Homo sapiens: one gene and its partners. The protein of the gene in region 2 purifies or fractionates together with the protein of the main gene of each other region. This does not show direct contact. Each region holds a gene or a part of one and is shown on either strand. Other genes may lie near its edges. The genes, in order: ERGIC2, SLC22A15 and GHDC.

What was found.
Region 1: the proteins of SLC22A15 (region 2) and ERGIC2 purify together in Homo sapiens (affinity purification with mass spectrometry; 2 studies listed by BioGRID and IntAct, with this or other methods). This does not show direct contact.
Region 3: the proteins of SLC22A15 (region 2) and GHDC purify together in Homo sapiens (affinity purification with mass spectrometry; 2 studies listed by BioGRID and IntAct, with this or other methods). This does not show direct contact.

The regions. Positions count from the first base shown.
Region 1 is NC_000012.12:29,378,166-29,386,192, reverse strand, and holds the start of ERGIC2 (endoplasmic reticulum-Golgi intermediate compartment protein 2), read left to right. Parts: upstream 1-5,020; 5' UTR 5,021-5,078; exon of another isoform or gene 5,079-5,724; intron 5,725-8,027. UniProt on the Homo sapiens protein: Possible role in transport between endoplasmic reticulum and Golgi.
Region 2 is NC_000001.11:116,028,480-116,035,585, forward strand, and holds part of SLC22A15 (solute carrier family 22 member 15), read left to right. Parts: intron 1-2,886; coding exon 2,887-3,102; intron 3,103-3,232; coding exon of another isoform or gene 3,233-3,251; exon of another isoform or gene 3,252-4,167; coding exon of another isoform or gene 4,168-4,168; exon of another isoform or gene 4,169-5,278; coding exon of another isoform or gene 5,279-5,279; exon of another isoform or gene 5,280-5,375; intron 5,376-6,707; coding exon 6,708-6,848; intron 6,849-7,106. UniProt on the Homo sapiens protein: Organic zwitterion/cation transporter with apparent specificity for amino acids and their derivatives. Has low affinity for its substrates and may regulate their flux across the plasma membrane at high substrate concentrations.
Region 3 is NC_000017.11:42,191,464-42,198,486, reverse strand, and holds the start of GHDC (GH3 domain-containing protein isoform 1 precursor), read left to right. Parts: upstream 1-3,992; 5' UTR 3,993-4,094; intron 4,095-4,636; 5' UTR 4,637-4,720; intron 4,721-4,892; 5' UTR 4,893-4,905; coding exon 4,906-5,170; intron 5,171-5,459; coding exon 5,460-5,581; intron 5,582-5,744; coding exon 5,745-6,246; intron 6,247-7,023.

The DNA of each region.
Region 1 (8,027 bases), on a different chromosome or scaffold from region 2:
CGGGATCCATTGGGTGAAGCCAGCTGGGCTCCTGAGTCTGGTGGAGATGTGGAGAACCTTTATGTCTTGCTCAGGGATTGTAAATACACCAGTCAGCACCCTGTGTCTAGCTCAGGGTCTGTGAATGCACCAATCGACACTCTGTATCTAGCTACTCTGGTGGGCCTTGGAGAACCTTCATGTCTAGCTCAGGGATTGTAAATACACCAATCGGCACTCTGTATCTAGCTCAAGGTTTGTAAACACACCAATCAGCACCGTGTCTAGCTCAGAGTTTGCGAATGCACCAATCGACACTCTGCATCTAGCTACTCTGGTGGGGCCTTGGAGAACCTTTGTGTGGACACTCTGTATCTAGCTAATCTGGTGGGGATGTGGAGAACCTTTGTGTCTAGCTCAGGGATTGTAGGTGCACCAATCAGTGCCCTGTCAAAACAGACCACTTGGCTCTACTAATCAGCAGGATGTAGGTGGGGACTTATAAGAGAATAAAAGCAGGCTGCCTGAGCCAGCAGTGGCAACCTGCTCGGGTCCCCTTCCACACTGTGGAAGCTTTGTTCTTTCGCTCTTTGCAATAAATCTTGCTACTGCTCACTCTTTGGGTCCACACTGCCTTTAAGAGCTGTAACACTCACCGCAAAGGTCTGCAGCTTCACTCCCGAGCCAGCGAGACCATGAACCCACCAGAAGGAAGAAACTCCGAACACATCTGAACATCAGAAGGAACAAACTCCGGACATGCCGCCTTTAAGAACTGTAACAGTCACGGCGAGGGTCCGCGGCTTCATTCTTGACGTCAGTGAGACCAAGAACCCACCAATTCCAGACACATTTTGGCGACCCAGATGGGACCTTCGCCAATCACCAAGCAGTAAGACCATCGCCTATTGCTGAGCGGTGAGACAATCACCTATTGCCAAGCAGTGAGTACCATCGGACCCCTTTAGCTTGCTATTCTGTCCTATCTTTCCTTAGAATTTGGGGGCTAAATACCGGGCACCTGTTGGCCAGTTAAAAGCGACTAGCGTGGCCACCGGACTAAAGACACGGGTGTCAGGTTTTCTGGGAAAGGGCTCTATAACAACCCCCGACTCTTCGGAGTTGGGACCATTGTTTTCCCTAGAACCAGCTTCTGCTTTTCCAGTACTTCTGGGCTGAGCCGAGGGTCGACAGAGAGGAAAGCCATGCAGCTCTGGGGTCCCGACAACAAGTTGGTTGACCCTGCGGCCATGAGCAGAACTCTCAAAAGCATGTCGCCCAAGCGAGACTCGCCCATCTATCCTATCTATCCTGACCCTTGCCCCCTGGGTCCTAATGCCTGTCAGACAAACTTCCTCTTGCCTCTCTTCTCTGAGGTTAGTCCCGCTTCTAAAAATTGCTACCGTCTCTGGTGCTTTTCTAGTTTCTCCTATAAGAATGATTTCTAGTATAAACTCCAGGACTCTGTTACCTTCTTTAGGCACCCGGGCTCACCAATCAGAAAGACATAATTTTTGCCCAAAGCCCCATCGTAGTGGGGACTACCTGGAATTTTAGGATCCCTCCTCAGACTAACAGGCCTAACAAAAGCTATTCCTGAAGCTAGGATATGGGGAGCCTCAGAAATTATATCCTTCCTATTCATATAAGTGAGGACAAAAGGTGTCACTCTTCCAAACCTGGAGATCCCTTCCCTCCCTCAGGGTATGGCCCTCCACTTCATTTTTGGGGCATAACATCTTTATAGGACAGGGGTAAAGTCCCAGTACTAACAGGAGAATGCTTAGGACTCTAACAGCTTTTCGAGAATGCGTCGGTAAGGGCCACTAAATCGATTTTTCTCAGTTGGTCCCCCTTGTGGCCTAGGAGGACAGGCAAGGGTGCAGGTTTTCGAGAATGCGTCGGTAAGGACCGCTAAATCTGACTTTCCTTGGTCCTCCATGTGGTCTGGGAGGAAAACTAGTGTTTCTGCTGCTGCGTTGGTGAGCGCAACTATTCCGATCAGCAGGGTCCAGGGACTGTTGCGGGTTCTTGGGCAGGGGTTGTTTCTGCTGCTGTGTTGGTGAGCGCAACTATTCTGATCAGCAGGGTCCAGGGACCGTTGTAGGTTCTTGGGCAGGGGGAGAAACAAAATAAACCAAAACGCGGCAGTTTTGTCTTTCAGATGGGAAACACTCAGGCATCAACAGGCTCACCCTTGAAATGCATCCTAAGCCATTGGGACCAATTTGACCCACAAACCCTGAAAAAGAGGCGGCTCATTTTTTTCTGCACTACGGCTTGGCCCCAATATTCTCTCTCTGATGGGGAAAAATGGCCACCTGAGGGAAGTACAAATTACAATACTATCCTGCAGCTTGATCTTTTCTGTAAGAGGGAAGGCAAATGGAGTGAAATACCTCATGTCCAAGCTTTATTTTCATTGAGGGAGAATACACAACTATGCAAAGCTTACAATTTATATCCCACAGGAGGATCTCTCAGCTTATCCCCATATCCTAGCCTCCCTATAGCTCCCCTTCCTATTAATGATAATCCTCCTCTAATCTCCCCTGGCCAGAAGGAAACAAGCAAGGAAATCTCCAAAGGACCACAAAAAACCCCGGGCTATTGGTTATGTCCCCTTCAAGCTATAGCGGGAGGGGTATTTGGCCCAACCCGGGTACATGTCCCCTTCTCCCTCTCTGATTTAAAGCAGATCAAGGCAGACCTGGGGAAGTTTTCAGATGATCCTGATAGGTACACAGATGTCCTACAGGGTCTAGGCAAACCTTTGACCTCACTTGGAGAGATGTCATGCTACTGTTAGATCAAACCCTGGCGTTTAATGAAAAGAATGCGGCTTTAGCTGCAGCCCAAGAGTTTGGAGATACCTGGTATCTTAGTCAAGTAAATGACAGAATGACAGCCGAAGAAAGGGACAAATTCCCGACTGGTCAGCAAGCCATCCCCAGTATGGATCCCCACTGGGACCTTGACTCAGATCATGGGGACTGAAGTCATAAACATCTGTTGACCTGTGTTCTAGAAGGACTAAGGAGAATTAGAAAAAAGCCCATGAATTATTCAATCGAACTAGAGAAAGAAAAAAATGGCACAAAAACACCTTTTGATCATCTTTACTAAATACAGGTTGTTATGGAACAATTATTAATCTCAGTCTAAAACCTATCTTATGCGGGTAATACATAATGGACTTTTTAAAGCAAATTGTTTTTCAGACATAACGCCACTGATAACACAAGATTAAGTATCTATCTCTTTTTAAAGATGATCCTGATAGGTACATAGATGTCCTACAGGGTCTAGGGCAAACCTTTGACCTCGCTTGCAGAGATGTCGTGCTACTGTTAGATCAAACCCTGGCCTTTAATGAAAAGAATGCGGCTTTAGCTGCAGCCCGAGAGTTTCAATCTTCAGGGGAAATTAAGTTCCCTCTTCACTGGGTAGATTAGAAAATGGTGAGTTGTTTTCTAAATAAGAAGGATCAAATTAGTCAGTTTTGCTACACTGGGAAATCCAACTCTCATGGGATAGTTGTTACCCTGAAAGTAGGTTATCCAGGAGATGAGGGATCAGATGTAACTAAGTGAACAACAGCCAGCCTCCATCCAAGCAAGAGCCCATATTCACAAAGAAGGAAGAGTTGCTGATGCCTTTACGGCAAAGATTAAAAAAAGGCATTTTAGATGTATATTAATTTACTTAATCCTCGTAACAACTCTGAGATATTATCATGCCCATTTTACAGATGAGCAAATGGAGACACAAAGAGATGAAATAATGTGGTCAAGGTTACATGCTAGTAAGTTGCTGATCTGGAATTCTAACCCAGGAAGTCCTGTCTCCAGTGTCTATGATTTCACCCACTACACTATACTTCTTAAGCATGTCAAGAAAGTGAGAACTTTAAATTGATTTAATTAGACTAACTCTGAAAGTCTGAAAATAAAATTGATTCATTGGAAACTTTTCATCAGTCCTTATTTTGGGGGATATTCAATTTAGTGAAATTTAGTATTTCAGTAAAGGTTAATTCACTACATAAAACAATGTGATTTTTTTCCTTTGAGGCACAGTTTAGTATTGTGATCAAGATTTCCCTGACTCTCCCAGCGGTCTGAATTTGGGTAAATCACTTCACTACCCCTTGACTCAAATTCCGTATTTATAAAACAGGTAAATACTGGTATTATCTTCTAAGAGTGTTGTGAGGATACGCAGATTTTTTAAAAAAGCAGTTAAAGCCTTTAAACAGTAATTATAAGCAGTTGTCATAATTATGCCGTTGTTAGACTTCTAGGTCAATGAATCAGAAAATTTAAATCTCAATGTTTGATTATAAAATCTGGTAACAGATGGGTGAAAAGGAACCTGGAATGGGTTTACTCTCCAGGAGTTCACATTTAACTTTTCTTTCCGAAGTTCCGTCTATTAACTCCTGTTCTATGAAGTGGTAGAAAAAGATGAGGTATTAATTTTCTTTCTTAACAAATATTTGAAGGCATAGTTGGTGTTGGCGAAGGGAGATGAGGAAGACATATGTGCTTTCTTATGATATTAAAACCTGGAAGACAATAAAAACGCTGATCAAATAATAAAAAGCGTTACCTATGGCGGAAAAGGAAGCTCAAATGTTCTTGTCAGGGGAAAACGACACAAAAACTGAAAGAGGGAAACAAAACAATTGCACAGGTGATATGCATTAGGGTTGTTAGGGATAATTTCTGCGCCCAAGGCTCTTATTAGTAATGAAATACGGTGTGAGGAGCTGAGATTCGTTCTGCAGTCTCAGTGTTAGTCGGAAAGTAACCCCTCCCTTCCCATAGAAACAGAACCGGACTGGCGGCGCGATTACACCTAAAACAAGTTGCAACCTCATTTCCCTGTAGGCACGCCTCTTTTATCTTAACCACGCCTCTTCATTCCCTAAGCACGTCGTAAGCAAAGGGAATATCGCGAGATCTGTACATTGTCTCTTTTCTGACGTTTTCAGCTGTGATAGTCGCTTTTGTTCTCGCGATATTTCCGGGTACGCGGGAGCCCCGGCGACCCGGGCTTCTGTGAAACATGGCGGTAGGCTGGGACCATAACACAAGGTAAAATACTGAAACACCGCTGGGTGCTGTTCCCTCGGTTGTTCCAGGGCTGTTTAGGGCGTAAATGCAATTGAGGGAACTGGGAGCCTGTCATGGGCTTGGCTTCCTGTCTTCATTGATCTCTAGAGAGCCGGTCGGACGGAGAAGCCGCTCCACCTCCCACGGGGGCGTTACTGGCAGGACCCTAGGCAACGATGCTACTGGGAGCTTCCCTTTGCCAGGTCCGGGTGCTTGTGTGCTATCCTGCAACTCGAAGGAGTTCAGGTGCTTCCTCGATCGCACCTGATTCTGACCCTTTGCTTGTCACAGTGCCCGGTTCCCAGGTGGTTTCTCCAGTCCGCAGGCGAGTAGGATCCCAATCGGTCGAGTCCCAGTCCTCCCGGATGTCAGACTCCCTACCCCCATTCAGACAAATGCCACATTCGTGGCAGCACGTTGCCCTCTGTCTCTTTAAGAGTCTTGGCCTTGCCCGGAAGGAGTTTCGCACAGTGCTTCGGAAAATGAGAAGGGGGCGGGGGAGGGCGAGATGCTGAGAGACAGGTTCGACTGTCACTACTTTTCCTCGGCGCAGGAAACCTTCCGAAGGCAACGTGTCAACTCGTGGTGGAGAATAGCCTTGTTTATCTGTAGTATATAGAGTTGACAGGTCATTGTTTGAGAAAACACGTTTAAATAACTTTTATATTTTAGTGCCCCCGAGACTTAAAGACAAAGTGGCATAATAGCTGTTAAAATGTTGCCAGACTGGTTTTCAGAAGCAATGAAAGTTACAGTTAAAAACAGGATTTATTCATTTGAAGTTGTAATTCAGTATTTCAGTTAATTGCCTAGCCTGATACATTGGACTCCAGTATACAGCAATTATAAAGAATGAGCCTGGCTTGTTCACTGAAAAAAGACATGGTTATTTACCTAATTTGTTTGTTGATATCTTTAAGTTGTTGTAATTATGCCAGTTCTAGTGGAAAACATGAGGAAAAAAATTCTGATTTTTTGGGAGGGTGGGGGTTGGCGGTGCAGGGATGGATAGAGAGAGGAGGATTTTTTTTTTTTTTTTAAATGATGGTGAACTTTAGTATACAGTTGCGTGTTATAATGGCTTCCTGGTACAAATCATAAAAATATATCAAGTTTGAAAGATCTCTCAAAGGAAATCAGGCCTAGTCTGGAACAACGAGAGTTAGGGAAACAACAACAACCACCCACACATTTTCTTTCTTTGGGGATTGATGATTTAAGTGAAAGAAATGGCTATTTTTTTTTTCTTTACCAGAAGTTACTTTTAGGCAGTCAGTGCCTGCTAAAAATCCTATTTAATAGTTTCCCAATATTTATTGTAATTCTGCCTCTTAATGTCATAGTGGTCAAATTATTTAACCTCTCTGTGCCTTAGTTCCTTCATCGGCCAAATGAAATAATGATACTTAACTCATAGGAAGGTTGTGAGGATTGAATGTGTTGAAACATACAAAGCATTTAGAACAATACCTGGCACACAGTAAACACTCAATGCATGTTAGCTCTTGTTATTTTTTATTTTCATTTTCTAACATCTGTAGTTACAAATGTTGCCTTGTTACTTAGTCAAAATGTAGACTGAAGAAGATATTGTTTAAAATAATATCTTTCTGAACTCCAGATTGATTAAACACTCTGATTGGTGTGGTTAATGTGTCCTTAAACTCCCATTATCCAGTTGCTTGTTTTCTTAAATTATTATCCTCTTTTAATGACTAAAGCATAAGTTCTTCCTTTCTATTGCTCTATATAGTCACGTTGTAGTGTGGCTCAGATCTACCCTCTGAGTGCCTTATTAACCCCCATACTCTTTGCTTTTGAGAACATTCATTCTATTGTAAATATATTTCATGTGTCCCTGACCTTTTCCTTAATACTTTTTAACTTTAATTTTCTATACTTTTATTGAGAGCTACTATAGTCTAGTTGTTCTTTGAGGAGGATTATACTTGTCCTTGCTTCACATTGCTACTAGGCACTTTTAAGGTTATTCTGTTATCACTCTATAGTCTCTCTTAACTTTTAGTCTTATCAGTTTATGCCATCCTAACTTCAGGAGATTGTCAACTAACCTCACATACTCTCCCACTTTCCTCAAAGACTTTAACAACTAAATCTCAAATATCCTACAAATCTTTGCTTTTTTTCAGAGAATTAGAAATAGATATTACATGCCTCATTTTTATCTTAACACTGTGAGGTAGCCATTATGTCCTGCTGCCCATCTTTTAAAATAAAATTATGGAGAGAGGATTCTAAGAAGTTGAGTATCTTTCCACACTTGTCACACAACTAGTAAGTGCCTAGGTAATCAGGGTTTTCTGATTATAAACTCACATTTATATTGTCTTCCTTGGCTTCCAAGTAAACCTTTCTGTCACTTAGAATGTCATTAGGTTTATTTGAATTATGTTGGGGTAAACAAACATAATATTTAACTCTGTTGTAAAAGGTCCAAATTTTAAGGTAAAAATAAGTACAATTGAGGGGGTTGGGGGGTTGCTATCTAGTATTTGCAAAGTAAAGCTAAGCTATCTTATAAAATGTTTTTTATTGTAAAGTATTCTAATGCAATATAATCAAGTAATTTAAAATTACAGATAGGTTGTAGTTTTACCTTTTATTTCTGATATTCAGCGATGGCCTGAATTATATTGCCTGTATTAGTTGCCTGGGGCTGCTGTAACAACTTACTATAAGCTGGGAGGCTTAAAACAAAAGAAATTTATTCTCTCACAGTTCTGGAGGCTAGAAGTCTGAAATCAAGGTGTCAGCAAGACTTGAAGACTCTAGGAAAGAATCCTTCTTTGACTCTTCCTGGCTTCTGGGCAATCCTTGCTATGCCTGGGTTTGTAGACACATCACTGTAGTCTCTGCCTTTGTTTTCACATGGCATTTTCCCTTGTGTTTCTCTGTGTCTTCACATGGCCT
Region 2 (7,106 bases):
TATAATAGTAGCACCACTTCACTGGATGATCTGAGCTGTTCTGCTTTTTTTTTTTTTTTTTTTTTTTTTAAAATATATAGTCTGAACTAGTTACTGTTTAGTGCTAGGTGGAAACATCTCCTCACTGGGAGGTGAGTTCAGGTCGTGAAAAATAGAAAGCAGAGAGAAAAGAACTCATGAGATTTAAATATTTACTTATTCCACTAAGCCTGGAATGTAAGGCTTCCCACAGTCAGCCTCCATTTATCTTTCCTAATTTCCCATCCTATGTTCAGGCACACTGCACTACTTGTTCCTTATGCTTTTCTGCTCCATGCTGCTACTCAGTGCTGTGTCTGCTTTTTCAACAATCTTCTGCCCAGATCTTCTTATTTGATAAGTACACCACTGTCCTGATTTTCTCAAATGCCGTCCACCCCATCTTTTCCTGATCATAGCTTCAGCTACAAGTCATTGTCTTTCTTTTTTGAATTCCACGGCATTCACCCATACCCTTTGAGTGGCCCTTATGTTTCTGCCTCATAATGGAGCCATGTTCTCTCTTTCTAAACTGAGAGCTCTCCAACAGTAGCAGGCTCTTTGCTCCATGATAACATTTTCCCCAGTACCAAAGCCAGGGGTTTCCACACAGTAGATCCTTGGACATTGCACAAATGTTGGCACAAAAACATTTGGAATCACCTTTAGAATTTGTAATCAGCAACATAAGAAGCCACATTATATACCTTATTTGTTTACCAGAAACATTTTTACCTAGCTTAAAAATTCCTTATTTTCACAATACTTCAATTTCAGTAGATTTACTTTTTTTCTGAAAACCAGGGTCCCCTTAATTTACAAAGATTTGCCACCTTTAATGATATTCATGGAGCGGTTTTGAGTTGGGCAACATTGTTAAATTAGCATTTTAGCTTTCAAAGGAGCCCACGGCACAGATGACCCTGCTGCTATGTAGAGGACGGCATGTTCAAAGGCCTGCTCTTTCTTTTAAAAACGTGTCTTACTGTTTTGTACGTATAATCTGCGTGTGTTGGAACTCTGTTTCCAAATCTGTCCACTGGCAACTAGGTGACCCTCTTTAGAAGCAAGCTTATTGGCCTCTCAAAATGCAAAGAAATATAAGACCGTAAGTTTTCATGATCAAGATAAACCCTTTGCCAGGTAGAAATAGTTTTATTAACTCAGAGCCGAATTTCTAAAGCCTTCGTGTCTCTCAAATACCAGCTTTAAAATGATTTATAAAGTTTTAAAAGTAATTTTTATTGCTTATAAACAATTTTGAAAACACAGAGAGGCTAAGGGTAGGAGAAAATGACATATAACCCAAAGATAATGACTGTGAATATTTTGGCGTATTTTCTGTTGTTTCTTTTTTATTCCTCCCAATCCTCCCCAAAATAATTTTTATTATCATATATTTTCTCTCAATATTTATCACAGTAGTCCTCTTTCATTTAGACATAATCAAGTGGTTTTACGTAATAGCTCCTATATGCCCCTATGGATAGGGCCAATAAATCCTACTCATAACCTGCAGACCTAACTTCAACAGAACAATGTTTTACTTGATTATTTATTTGTTTGTCCGTAATAATAATCAAATGGCAATGAAGAAGTAAATGGAAGGATTTTTCAGGATGTTATAGATGGCCTTTGTTCCTGCTTTTGCTGACAGTCAAATATTGTGCGTGAATATTCCTTTCCTCAGTAGCAAAGCTCCTGGGAAAACTCCTGCCTTTTGGTTTCCAGCATCTTTCCTTTCAGCACCATTACATTACTCTGTACAAAATTGAAATGCTCAATAAATGGCTGTTGACAGACTGGCTGTCCATTAAGTTTCCAAATCCTGTAGTGTTTGTTCCTAATTCACTATCCTTATTAGAAGGCACAGTGAATTCTATAAAGCACCGTAAATAGCCAGTTTTATTCATCTAAGTTTCATTTTAGGCAGATAATGTCAAATTAGATTTAAAAAAAAAACAACCTTGATTTGTGTCTTGTAAACAAGGCTTCCATATTCCTGCCTTGGTTTTGTCTTTGGAAAGTCCTCTGAAAGTGTAGGTAAAATGGGGAAGAGGCAAAAAGATACATAATATTTAAGTTTTGAAACTCTTTGAATATATCAATGGCAATATAATTATCCAACACTTTGTAGTTACATTAGAAAATAACTGTTGTTTTGTAACTAGAAGTTGGTCAGGAAATAACTTCTATTCTTTAAGGTCTTGGGGGATCAGGAAATATCCTCAGGACATATTAAAGCCAGTGTGTCAGGTGATTTGAGTATTTTGAAGCAGTAAACACTCAAAAGTAGCTTTGGTAAACTTGGTTTCATCTTTATGTGTAGTCTTAAGATAATCTCTACCTCCTACATGTCACTATGTTAAAAATATTTCAGTTTAAATTTTTTTTTCCTGATGAGATAATAAAGATTTCTATCTTGTCAGGCTTTTTTAGAACTTAAAAAAACCCATTGTCTCTACAGTATTTTCAAACAACACTTGGCTAGGATTTAGAGCCATATCTTTGACCTGTGCTTTATGAAGAATTTTCATTATTCAGTCCTATAGACTGAATAATATGTTAATATTTAACATATTAAAATTCACATATTAAAATTTATTTAAAAATAAATGCATACTGTTTGCTTTTTAAACTGCAATTGTAAAGCATGTTCTTGGTTTTCAGTGATAAAGTAGACTACCATTTAATGTTAGCATGCTGTTGAAAGTAGCCCTTTCATATGTTATTGGGAGAGTCAAACTTTAAGTCTAACATGGAATCCCATTTGTGGTGCAGGAATCCACGTACTGAGTAGGTGATTTGTCTCCTTCCTGTGCACGTGTACCTATATGAATATACAGGCTTTAATGACATCTCTTTCAGATTCATTCCTGAATCACCTCGTTGGTTATACTCCCAGGGTCGACTGAGTGAGGCTGAAGAGGCGCTGTACCTCATTGCCAAGAGGAACCGCAAACTCAAGTGCACGTTCTCACTAACACACCCAGCCAACAGGAGCTGCAGGGAGACTGGAAGTTTCCTGGATCTCTTTCGTTACCGGGTCCTGTTAGGACACACTTTGATCCTGATGTTCATCTGGTAATTATACTAAGGCGTGTTCTGTTGCTCTTTAACTAAGGTTGCTCGAGCTTCTCTTGATATCCTGCTCCTTCTTCAGGGTACAGGGAATTTTACCTCTTTTGTTAGCTTGAGGTTGTTTTCTCAACAGCAAGTCTCCTGATCCTTAGCGCCTGGTTTTCTGCTTGCGCAGCCCCGTCTTTCTCAAGTAGCAGATGATAGTGCCTGATGGGCAGGTCCACTGAGCTTGAGTAAGTAGACATCAGAAGCACATCTTTGCTTTTGAGGTATTTATCATAAATATTTAAGCCTTCCTGCCCCTTCCCCTGCAAAAAAGGAAAGAAAGCAAATAAGCATGGTAGAAATAGATGAGTTTTTAAATAGGACTTTAAAAATACTTACCTTTGGCACTGGCATCAAGCAGTTTGCTAGCACATTCTGATTGCGGTGCTCCATGCTGCATTTTCTGTGGCACTCCCACTCACTAACTCACTGAGGTGGGCTAAATATGATCCCTTGTACAGATGGGACCCCAGGAGTTTGAAGTGATGAACCCTAAGCCACATATGTAAATCAGTGATTGAACTGATGAGCACTTTCTGAACCTGATTTTTCTGGTTGTTTAGCTTATTCCCACCTACCTTTCAAAATGCTCTCAGCGTGAGTGTAAGTTGCATTCAGCGGTTCAAGATGGTTTCATTTAAAGAATGAAGTTGTAGAAAGAGGAGAAATGGATGGGTGCATACAATTTGTGGATTGCACATGTGTTTTGATATTGTACATACTGCTAATGTGCCATAAGTGTTATCTGGGCAAAATCATACCTACTAGCCTAAAGGACAGTTGTGCTGTGGCTTATATGTATTTGCCATGAAGCCTGCATGGAGCCCTACATTTCATGCAGGGATAAAGGAAAGTGATTTTATATGAAAGTGATCTTATGTATAAAGCTACAAAGAATAGTAGCTTTAGAATAAGAAGCTGCAAAGATATTTTTCTATATCATATACTCTTTTTCTACCCAAGCAGTGGCTGCCACCTGTATGGTTGGGGGCCATGTTAACCAACTGCTGCTTTCCCCCACAGAACCATCACAGCACTAGGAATATCACAGATGCATAATAAATGTTGAGGCTTGGAGGCATGGAGATTAAGAAAACCGTTGAAAGCCAAACCTGACAACACAACATAGGAGCTGCTAATTTGAGGTTCTACCCATTCAAAAGCAAATACTTACAAAGTATGTTCAGGTACTTAGGGCTCCATAAAACTTTACATTTGTGTATCACATAGACAGTCAGTCAACCTCTGCCTTGGAGGAACCACCTACTTGTTGCAGATTATTCACTATTTTTATTTTTTCCCCCATGTATATTAACTTCTGGGTTCTGGCCTTCAATGGATAAACAAACAAACAAACCCTAGACTTAGGGCCAGGGAAACTGTCCCTGTTCATTTTATTTCTTACACAGCCAAATAAACTTCTTCCCTGAGGCTGAGAATGTTAAAACATGTGATAATAGAGACAGTCACTCCACATATTGCCGTTCTTTTTGAAGATGCTATAAAATTCTAAAATCTTCTCTGTGGATCTGTCATTCAAGAAAGCCTTAACTGGGGATTCAAATTATACCTCTGTGTTAAACATCTGTTCCTTTAGTTATTTTCCACAATAGTGCCTTTTTAAATAATTATTTGATGCTCTAAATATACTGTTAAATATTATGCAAGCATTTTAGATTTTGTTTGGGGGACATAAAGAGGATTGAAATGATTTTAATAGCTGTAATTATGGATCCCAATGACCAACTCTATGACGAAGGCAACTTGCAGAGCAGAGGCCCAGCCCTGGGGACAATGGGCCTTCCATGCTTCATGCTCTCCCCGTTCTCTCTCACCACCAGCTGGGAACTAAATTCCACTATTGTCCTGAACTGGCTTGTCTATTCTTGCCCTGACTTGATACTGTCACAGCTTGATTTAAATAGGGGTGTCTCTGTGTGTGTGTGTGTGTGTGTGTGTGTGTGTATGTGTGTGTGTGTGGCTGGAATTTCTATTGTAAATGCAGAACAGACACAGAAAACCAACTGGGAAACAGCATTATGTAAATGCTGTTTCTGCAGGTGTAAGGGATTTTAAAAACGTTTTAGAAAACTGCATGGATTTAAATTTATTTTGCCTTCTGCTTTCATGCAAGATACCTGGGAGACAGTGAGAACAGACAATGCAGTGTCACCTTGCATCCTTACATGTGATGTCCTGGCTACAATCCTGCCCGTTGTCCTTGGTATATGAATAACACTTCATCTCAGTAAGAAATCATGCATAATACTTCTGGCTCATTTGCTAGGGAGGGCTGGACTACTAACCACTCCAGCTTGAGGGTCCCTTCTCTTTACATCTCTCTCTTCTTACATTACTACAGCCTGGGGTACTTGGCCCACTTCTGAGATTAAGCAGAGATGGAAATAAAACTTTCCCTTTCCTGACTGATCTCATTATAGCCACAGCTCATTAGAGTTTCTCTAAGGAAAACTAAAGGGAAGCAAATGAGAATGTCCCCTTAATAAACACTGATCAAACTGTGTTGCAAAAGCATAAAACCTGATGAACTTAACAAAGCTTCGGTGTTTTACTGCTTGTATAGAAATTTGTGGTTTACCAAACATATTCATATTTTTGTAAAGCCCAGTTTCAGGGTTTTATTTTTGTTCATTCTATTCTATTTTGTTTTGTTTTATTTTAATAATGCAGTTTCCTAGGCATAGAAGTTCCTACTACCACCATTACTGTGTTTGAGGAAGCCCTGATTTGGATCTTTAGGTTGGCACTTGGCTTCCTCAGCTCTTTAGTTCTTGGATTGTAGGAGAGAGGCTTGGTGCCTAGCACTATGCCTGCCACCCAAGAGGAGCTCCCTGTTTGTTTCAGGAACGGTGTACATAAATAAATTAATGGCTTTTTAAGTGACCCTTCCTCGGTTGTTCCTCCTAGAAGATCCTGCCTTTGCTGTGACCTTTAATTTTTCTTTCCTGTTCTGGGAGTCTGTATCATGTGCACCTGCTGAATGCAGGATGGGGTTAAAACCTGCAATGGGAAGTGTCTGGATCATTGGGGATTGGAGTGCCAGTCATTTTGGGCCTGCAGGTGACCCACTGAAGATCCAGTCACTTCTCAGCTCATGTTCTTAAGGCCATCTTCTGTTGGCTTTCTCCATGGGAGTTCTTTTCTAGAATCATTTCAATAATATTACAACTATCTATAACAAGTGTTCCATAAATTGTTGCCTTAAATAAAGAATAGGGTCATTGTGTTCTATTAATTGCAGAAATGCTTGCTGAAAGCACATGCAATGTCTTTCCTCTTTAAGGGGCTGGCCATCCATTTGATTTATATAACATATAGACATAGCTCAAATTATTTCCAAACCCCCATAATTTTTTTGTTTTTTCCTAGTGTTGAAATTTAGATTAAAATAGAAAAATTAGTAGGAGAGACAAGCTTATTGCTTACAGCAGATCAAGCAATTATATTGAACCAATATTTGAATCTCCTCTGGCAAATTCTTATGTACTTTTCTGTTGTCCTTCTTGTCTTTTACCTCCTGGTCCTTTGACTCCCAATTGCAGGTTTGTGTGCAGCTTGGTGTATTATGGCCTAACTCTGAGTGCGGGTGATCTAGGTGGAAGTATTTATGCCAACCTGGCCCTGTCTGGCCTCATAGAGATTCCATCTTACCCTCTCTGTATCTACTTGATTAACCAAAAATGGTGAGTAAGTGTGGATGAATATGAAGTGCACCGTAGAGAATGCACACATACACATATGCCCTCTGATACACATGCATATCTATATGGTGTTGTCTTTGTATGCAGTATCAGCTGATTGCTCTGTGGTGATTAGAGTTTCTTTCCATCTAAAAACAGTTAGAATTCATTTCTTAGTGCAGGATTTCTTGAGTTTCATGTTTACGAGTTTTTATATAGATTTCAATTCAATATTGAATATCGAAATCCAAGATAGTATTG
Region 3 (7,023 bases), on a different chromosome or scaffold from region 2:
GACCTCAGGTGATCCACCTGCCTTGGCCTCCCAAAATGCTGGGATTACAGGCGTGAACCACCATGCCCAGCCTGGAGCTGGCTCTTAAGGAACAAATAGGGCCGGGCACGGTGGCTCATGCCTGTAATCCCAGCATTTTGGGACGCCAAGGCAGGTGGATCACCTGAGGTCGGGAGTTCGAGACCAGTCTGGCCAACATGATGAAACCCCGTCTCTACTAAAAATACACAAAAATTAGCTGGGCGTGGTGGCACGCGCCTGTAATCCCAGCTACTTGGGAGGCTGAGGCAGGAGAATCGCTTGAACCCGGCAGGCAGAGATTGCAGTGAGCCGAGATCATGCCATTGCATTCCAGCCTGGACAACAGAGCAAGACTCTGTCTCAAATTAAAAAAAAACAAAAAACCCAGCCATTCCACTTGTAGGTATCTACATAAGAACCATGAGAACATATATGTACAGAAACACTTGTGACAAATGTTCATAACAGCATTATGCATAATAGCCAAAGGGCAGAAACAACCCAAATGTCCATCAACTGATGAATAAACAAAATGTATTATGGTATATCTGTACAATGGAATATACGGCAATAAAAAGGAATGAAGTGCTGACACACAGGACATGATGTTGTCACGGATGAACCTTGACAATATCATGCTAGATGAAAGAAGCCAGGCCGGGCACGGTGGCTCATGACTGGGACTCCAGCACTTTGGGAGGCTGAGGCGAGGGATCACTTGAGTGCAGCAGTTCAAGACCAGCTTGGACAACACGGTGAAACCCCATCTCTACAAAAAAATACAAAAATTAGCTGGATGTGGTGGTGCACCCCTGTAGTCCCACCTACTCAGGAGGCTGAGGTGGGAGGATCACTTGAGCTGTGATCATGCTACTGCACTCCAGCCTGGGTGACAGAGCGAGGAAAAAGAAAAGAAGCCAAGTACAAAAGACCGCATATTATATGATGCCATTTATAGGAAATGTCTAGGATAGGCAAATCTATGGAGACAGAAAGTAAATTTGAGGTTGCCTAGAGGCTGGGAAGGAGTTTGGAGGTAATAGTGAAAGGATACAGGGTTTGGGGGTTTTTTTGTTTTGTTTTTTTTTTTGTTTGTTTTTCTTGAGACAGAGTCTCGCTCTGTCACCCAGACTGGAGTGCAGTGGCGCCATCTCGGCTCACTACAACCACTGCCTCCCAGTTTCAAGCGATTCTCCCACCTCAGCCTCCCAAGTAGCTGGGATTATAGGCGCCGGCCACCAGACCCTGCTAATTTTTGTATTTTTAGTAGAGACAGTGTTTTGCCATGTTGGCCAGGCTGGTCTTGAACTCCTGACTTCAGGTGATCCACCTGCCTTGGCCTCCCAAAGTGCTGGGATTATAGGTGTGAGCCACCACGCCCAGCCTGAGTTTGGGGTTTTTTATTTTATTTTATTTTATTTTATTTTATTTTATTTTATTTTATTTTATTTAACGAATTGGGCAGTCTCCTGAGGCACAGTAGGCTCAGAGAGACTCTGCAGGGTTTGTTTTTGAGGTAAGGAAAATGTTATTATCTGTGGTGTTGGTTGCACATATCTCTGGATATACTAGATCTTGAATTGTACACTAAATGGGTGATTTGTATGGTGTGTGAATTATATCTAATAAAGCTGTTACTGGGCCAGGTCTAGTGGCTTACACCTGTAATTCCAGCACTTTGGAAGGCCAAGGTAGGAGGATCGCTGAGACCGGGAGTTCCAGACCAGTCTGGGCAACATAGTAAGACCCCCTGTCTCTACAAAAAAAAAAAAAAAATGTTTTTAATTAGCTGGGTGTGGTGGCACATGCCTGTAGTCCTAGCCACTCAGAGGCTGGGGTAGGAGGATTGCTTGATCCCCGGAGTTCAAGGTTGCAATGAGCTGTGACCAGGCCACTGAACTCCAGCCTGGACAACAGAGCAAGACCCTGTCTTTAAATAAATAATAAAAGCAAATGCAAGATCTCAGCGAGAAAAAACGTGAAAGTGAGGTGAGTTAGCCAGAGTGAGAACAGACCTGTTGAAAGAAGCTCAGCTGTGAAGGGAAGAGAGGTGCTCAGCAAGTAGTAGCTCTCTTCTCAAAGGTATCCAGAGGCAAGTAAGGGGAGAAAGGGAGTGGTTTTAGTGTTTTGAGAGCCTAGGTCAAGAACACACCAGCCTGGGCAACATAGGGAGCTCTCTCGTCTCTACAAAAAATAAAATTAGTTGAGCGTAGTGGTGCGTACCTGTAGTTCCAGTCCCTTGGGAGGCTGAGACAGGAGGATCTCTTGAGCCCAGGAGGTTGAGGTTGCAGTGAGCTATGATCGCACCACTGCACTCCAGCCTGGGCAATAGATCAAGACCCTGTCTCAAAAACAAAAAACAAAAAAAGAGAAGTTTGTAATTTTCCTTGGGATAAAGGCAACAGGCTAACACAGATGGTCACCCAGTAACCAGGTAAAGTTAAGATAAACTATATGTGACTGGCTGGGTGCAGTGGCTCAGGCCTGTAATCCCAGCACTTTGGGAGGCCGAGGCAGGTGGATCACTTGAGGTCAGGAGTTTGAGACCAGCCTGGCCAACATGGTGACATGGTGAAACCCCGTCTCTACTAAAAATACAAAAAATTAGCTGGGTGTGGTGATGCGTGCCTGTAATCCCAGCTACTCGGGAGGCTGAGGCAGGAGAATTGCTTGAATCTGGGAGGCGGAGGTTGCAGTGAGCTAAGATCGTGCCATTGCACTCCAGCCTGGGCAACAAGAATAGAACTCTGCCAAAAAAACAAAAAAAAAGAAGTTTGTAATTTTCCTTGGGATAAAGCCAGCAAGCTAACACAGATGTTCACCTAATAACCATGTAAAGTTAAGATAAACTATGTGACTGGCTGGGTGTGGTGGCTCACACCTGTAATCCCAGCACTTTGGGAGGCCAAGGAGGGTAGATCACTTGAGGTCAAGAGTTTGAGACCAGCCTGGCCAACATGGTGAAACCCCATCTCTACTGAAAATACAAAAATTAGCTGGGCGTGGTGGCACACACCTGTAATCCCAGCTGCTTGGGAGGCTGGGGCAGCAGAATCGCTTGAACCTGGGAAGTGGAGGTTGCAGTGAGCTGAGATTGTGCCACTGCACTCCAGCCTGGGCAACAGAGCAAGACTGTGTCTCAAAAAAAAAAAAAAAAAAAAAAGATAAACTATATGTGACAAGTCCTCTTACTTGAGGACTCGTTATTGTTTATCTTGAAAACGTGTATGTAATGGGTTGTATGCGCTTGGCTATACAAAAAAGTAAGATTTCCTCCCTTCTTTGCAAGCTCTTAGCAGATCACCTGTCATGTACATCACATTGTGGTTGAATGCTTATTCAATAATAAAATTGTTTTCTTTCTCAACTACCTTGAGGGAGAGGATGGGGTTTTTTTTGTTGTTGTTTTTGTTTTGTTTGTTTTTGAGACGGAGTTTCGCTCATTGCCCAGGCTGGAGTACAATGGCGCAATCTCAGCTCACTGCAACCTCCGCCTCCCAAGTTCAAGTGATTCTTCTGCCTCAGCCTCCCAAGTAGCTGGGATTACAGGCATGTGCCACCACATCTGGCTAATTTTGTATTTTTAGTAGAGATGGGGTTTCACCATGTTGGTCAGGCTGGTGTCAAACTCCTGACCTCAGATGATCCACCCGCCTCAGCCTCCCAAAGTGTTGGGAATACAGGCGTGAGCCACCGCGCCCAGCTGAGTTGGGGTTTTAAGAGTTCTTAAGCTTGCCCCTCTCCCAGCTCAAGTGGCTTAATGGCGTTCTTTCCCACACACACCTTTCTGTTCCTTCACCTGCGCAAGTTTGAGGACCATGCTAGTCTGGTCCTAACTGCCCCAACTGCCAGCCTGGGCTAGCACCCGACATGAAGTCCTGTAGGCGACCTGCCCCTTTAAGAGCACCCCCCTCCTTCAGCTCCTCCCTCAGGCCTGGTGGCCGGATTTCCCAGTTGGGGCCCAGCCTTTTAAAGCCATCGCTCCTTCTTTCTGGCCGGATGTGTGCTGAGACCCAGAGTCACCCAGGGGTCTCCGTCACGTGCCAGGAGTAGGCAGAAGTGGGCTGTGACAGGTGCATGTGGGCATGGACCCCACAGCCTGGGGCTCAGGAGGGACAAGGAGCTGGGACAGGGTGGATCCCGAGAGAAAGCAAAGCCACTCGGGAGTGGGCAAGAGATATCGTTACGCAGCTGCTGTGTGCCCGACCGACCCTGTCCGAAACCCTTCCTGTACCTTCCCTTCCTCTTCCTTCTTTTCTCCCTTTTTTTTCTTTTCTTTTTTTTTTTGACAGGGTCTCACTCTGTTGCCCAAGCTGGGGTGCAGTGGCACGATCTTGGCTCACTGTAGCCTTGACATCCTGGGCTCAAGGGATCCTCCCATCTCAGCCTCCCAAGTAGCTGCGACTATGGGTGTGACACCACGCTGGGCTAGTTTTTCAATTTTTTGTAGAGATGGAGTCTCCCTATGTTGCTCAGGCCGGTTGCAAACTCCTGGGCTCAAGTGATTCTCCTGCCTCAGCCTCCCAAAGTGCTGGGATTACAGATGATAGCCACCTCACCCGGCCCACCCCTACCTTCTGAAAGAGGCATTCTTATTCTTATTCCCATTTTGCAGATCAGGAAACAGAGCTCAGTGCAGCCCACTAAATTGCTCAGGGCCCTACAGCTAACAAGCGGCAGAGGCAGGATCTGCACTCAGGTCAGTGGGACTCCAAAGCTTTGATAGTCTCTCCTTTGCATCACCTGCCCCACAGGGTCCTGCCTTCTTCCCAATTTCATTTTTCCTCGGTTTTCCTGTATGCAGTAGAGCGTGGGAGGAGAAATGGATAATTGCTGCATGCCCCCATATCTCGGTTCCTTCCTCTTCCCAGGAGCTGCTTGGAGATGCTGCTGTGGCCACTGCTGCTGCTGCTGCTGCTGCTGCCAACATTGGCCCTGCTCAGGCAGCAGCGGTCCCAGGATGCCAGGCTGTCCTGGCTTGCTGGCCTCCAGCACCGAGTGGCATGGGGGGCCCTGGTCTGGGCAGCCACCTGGCAGCGGCGGAGGCTGGAGCAGAGCACGCTCCATGTGCACCAGAGCCAGCAGCAGGCCCTGAGGTGGTGTCTACAGGGAGCCCAGCGCCCCCACTGTTCCCTCAGAAGGAGCACAGGTGTGTTTCCCAGGGTCTGGGGAGGTGACCCAAAGAGAAAGAAACCCCACAGGACCGTCAGATTCCAGAGCCTGATGGCCCCCTTACCTCCTCCACTGCCAACGGAGTGGCCTGACCCAGAGACCCAGGACTGGCTTTCTTGTCCAAGATGAATTTCCCATGCTGGGTCCTTACATCCTCTCTACCCCAGGCCTATTCTCGGTTCCTCCCTCAAGGGTCTCACCAGTCTTGCCTGAAACTCTTGGGAAACTGGCTTCCTGAGGCGTTTCTGTTGTCATTGGGGCTATAGACATAAGCACCTTCCGGAATCATCTCCCTCTGACCAAGGCCAGCCAGACCCAGCAGGAAGACAGTGGAGAGCAGCCACTGCCCCCGACCTCAAACCAGGACCTTGGGGAGGCCTCTCTGCAGGTAATCTAGGATGGCCAGAGCCCAGTCCTGGCCACAGCCCAGTCCCACCAGAGACCTCTGACTTGCAGCCAAACCCTCCAGTCATGGTGGGCAAAGAACCCCCAAATGGGGGCTCTGGGTCTGGCTCTGACACCAGACCAACATTCTCTCTTTCCTCCTCCAGGCCACCTTGCTGGGTCTGGCAGCCCTAAACAAGGCCTACCCAGAAGTGCTGGCTCAGGGACGCACTGCCCGTGTGACGCTTACATCCCCTTGGCCCCGACCCCTGCCTTGGCCTGGGAATACCCTGGGCCAGGTGGGCACCCCTGGAACCAAGGACCCTAGGGCCCTGCTGCTGGACGCACTGAGGTCCCCAGGGCTGAGGGCACTGGAGGCTGGGACGGCTGTCGAACTTCTGGATGTTTTCTTGGGCCTGGAGACTGATGGTGAAGAGCTAGCTGGGGCGATAGCTGCCGGGAACCCTGGAGCGCCTCTCCGTGAACGGGCAGCTGAGCTCCGGGAGGCCCTAGAGCAGGGGCCACGGGGACTGGCCCTTCGGCTCTGGCCAAAGCTGCAGGTGGTGGTGACTCTGGATGCAGGAGGCCAGGCCGAGGCTGTGGCTGCCCTCGGGGCCTTGTGGTGCCAAGGACTAGCCTTCTTCTCTCCTGCTTATGCTGCCTCGGGAGGTCAGTGGGACTCAAGGGCAGTGAGGTGGGGGCAACGGTCAGTGGTCACATGACAAGCAGCCATGCATTGGGCCCTACATAATCATCTCATTTAATCCTCCCCAACAAGCTGCATGCTAGGGCCAGCAGCCTCCTTTTACAAGTGAAGAAATTCAGGCTCTCTAGGTTAAGAGTCTTGTAGCTGGGTGCAGTGGCTCACGCCTGTAATCCCAGCACTTTGGGAGGCCAAGGTGGATGGATCGTTGAGGTCAGGAGTTCCAGACCAGCCTGGCCAACATGGCGAAACCCCATCTCTACTAAAAATACAAAAACTAGCGGAGTATGGTGGTGCACGCCTATAATCCCAGCTACCTGGGAGGCTGAGGCGGGAGGATTGCTTAAACCTTGGAGGCAGAAATTATAGTGAGCTGAGATCGCGCCATTGCACTCCAGCCTGGGTGACAGAGCAAGACCCTGTCTCAAAAAAAAAAAAAAAAAAAAAAGGCCGGGGCAGTGGCTCACGGGTGTAATCCCAGCACTTTGGGAGAGGCTGAGGTGGGTGGATCACCTGAAGTTAGGAGTTTAAGACCAGCCTGGCCAATGTGGTGAAACCCTGTCTCTACTAAAAATACAAAAATTAGCCAGGTGTGGTGGCAGGCGCCTGTAATCTCAGCTACTCAGGAGGCTCAGGCAGGAGAATCACTTGAACCCAGGAATCACTGAATCACTGAGCCGAGATCGCACCACTGCACTCCAGCCTAGGTGACAGAGCGAGACTCTGTCTCAAAAAAAAAAAGA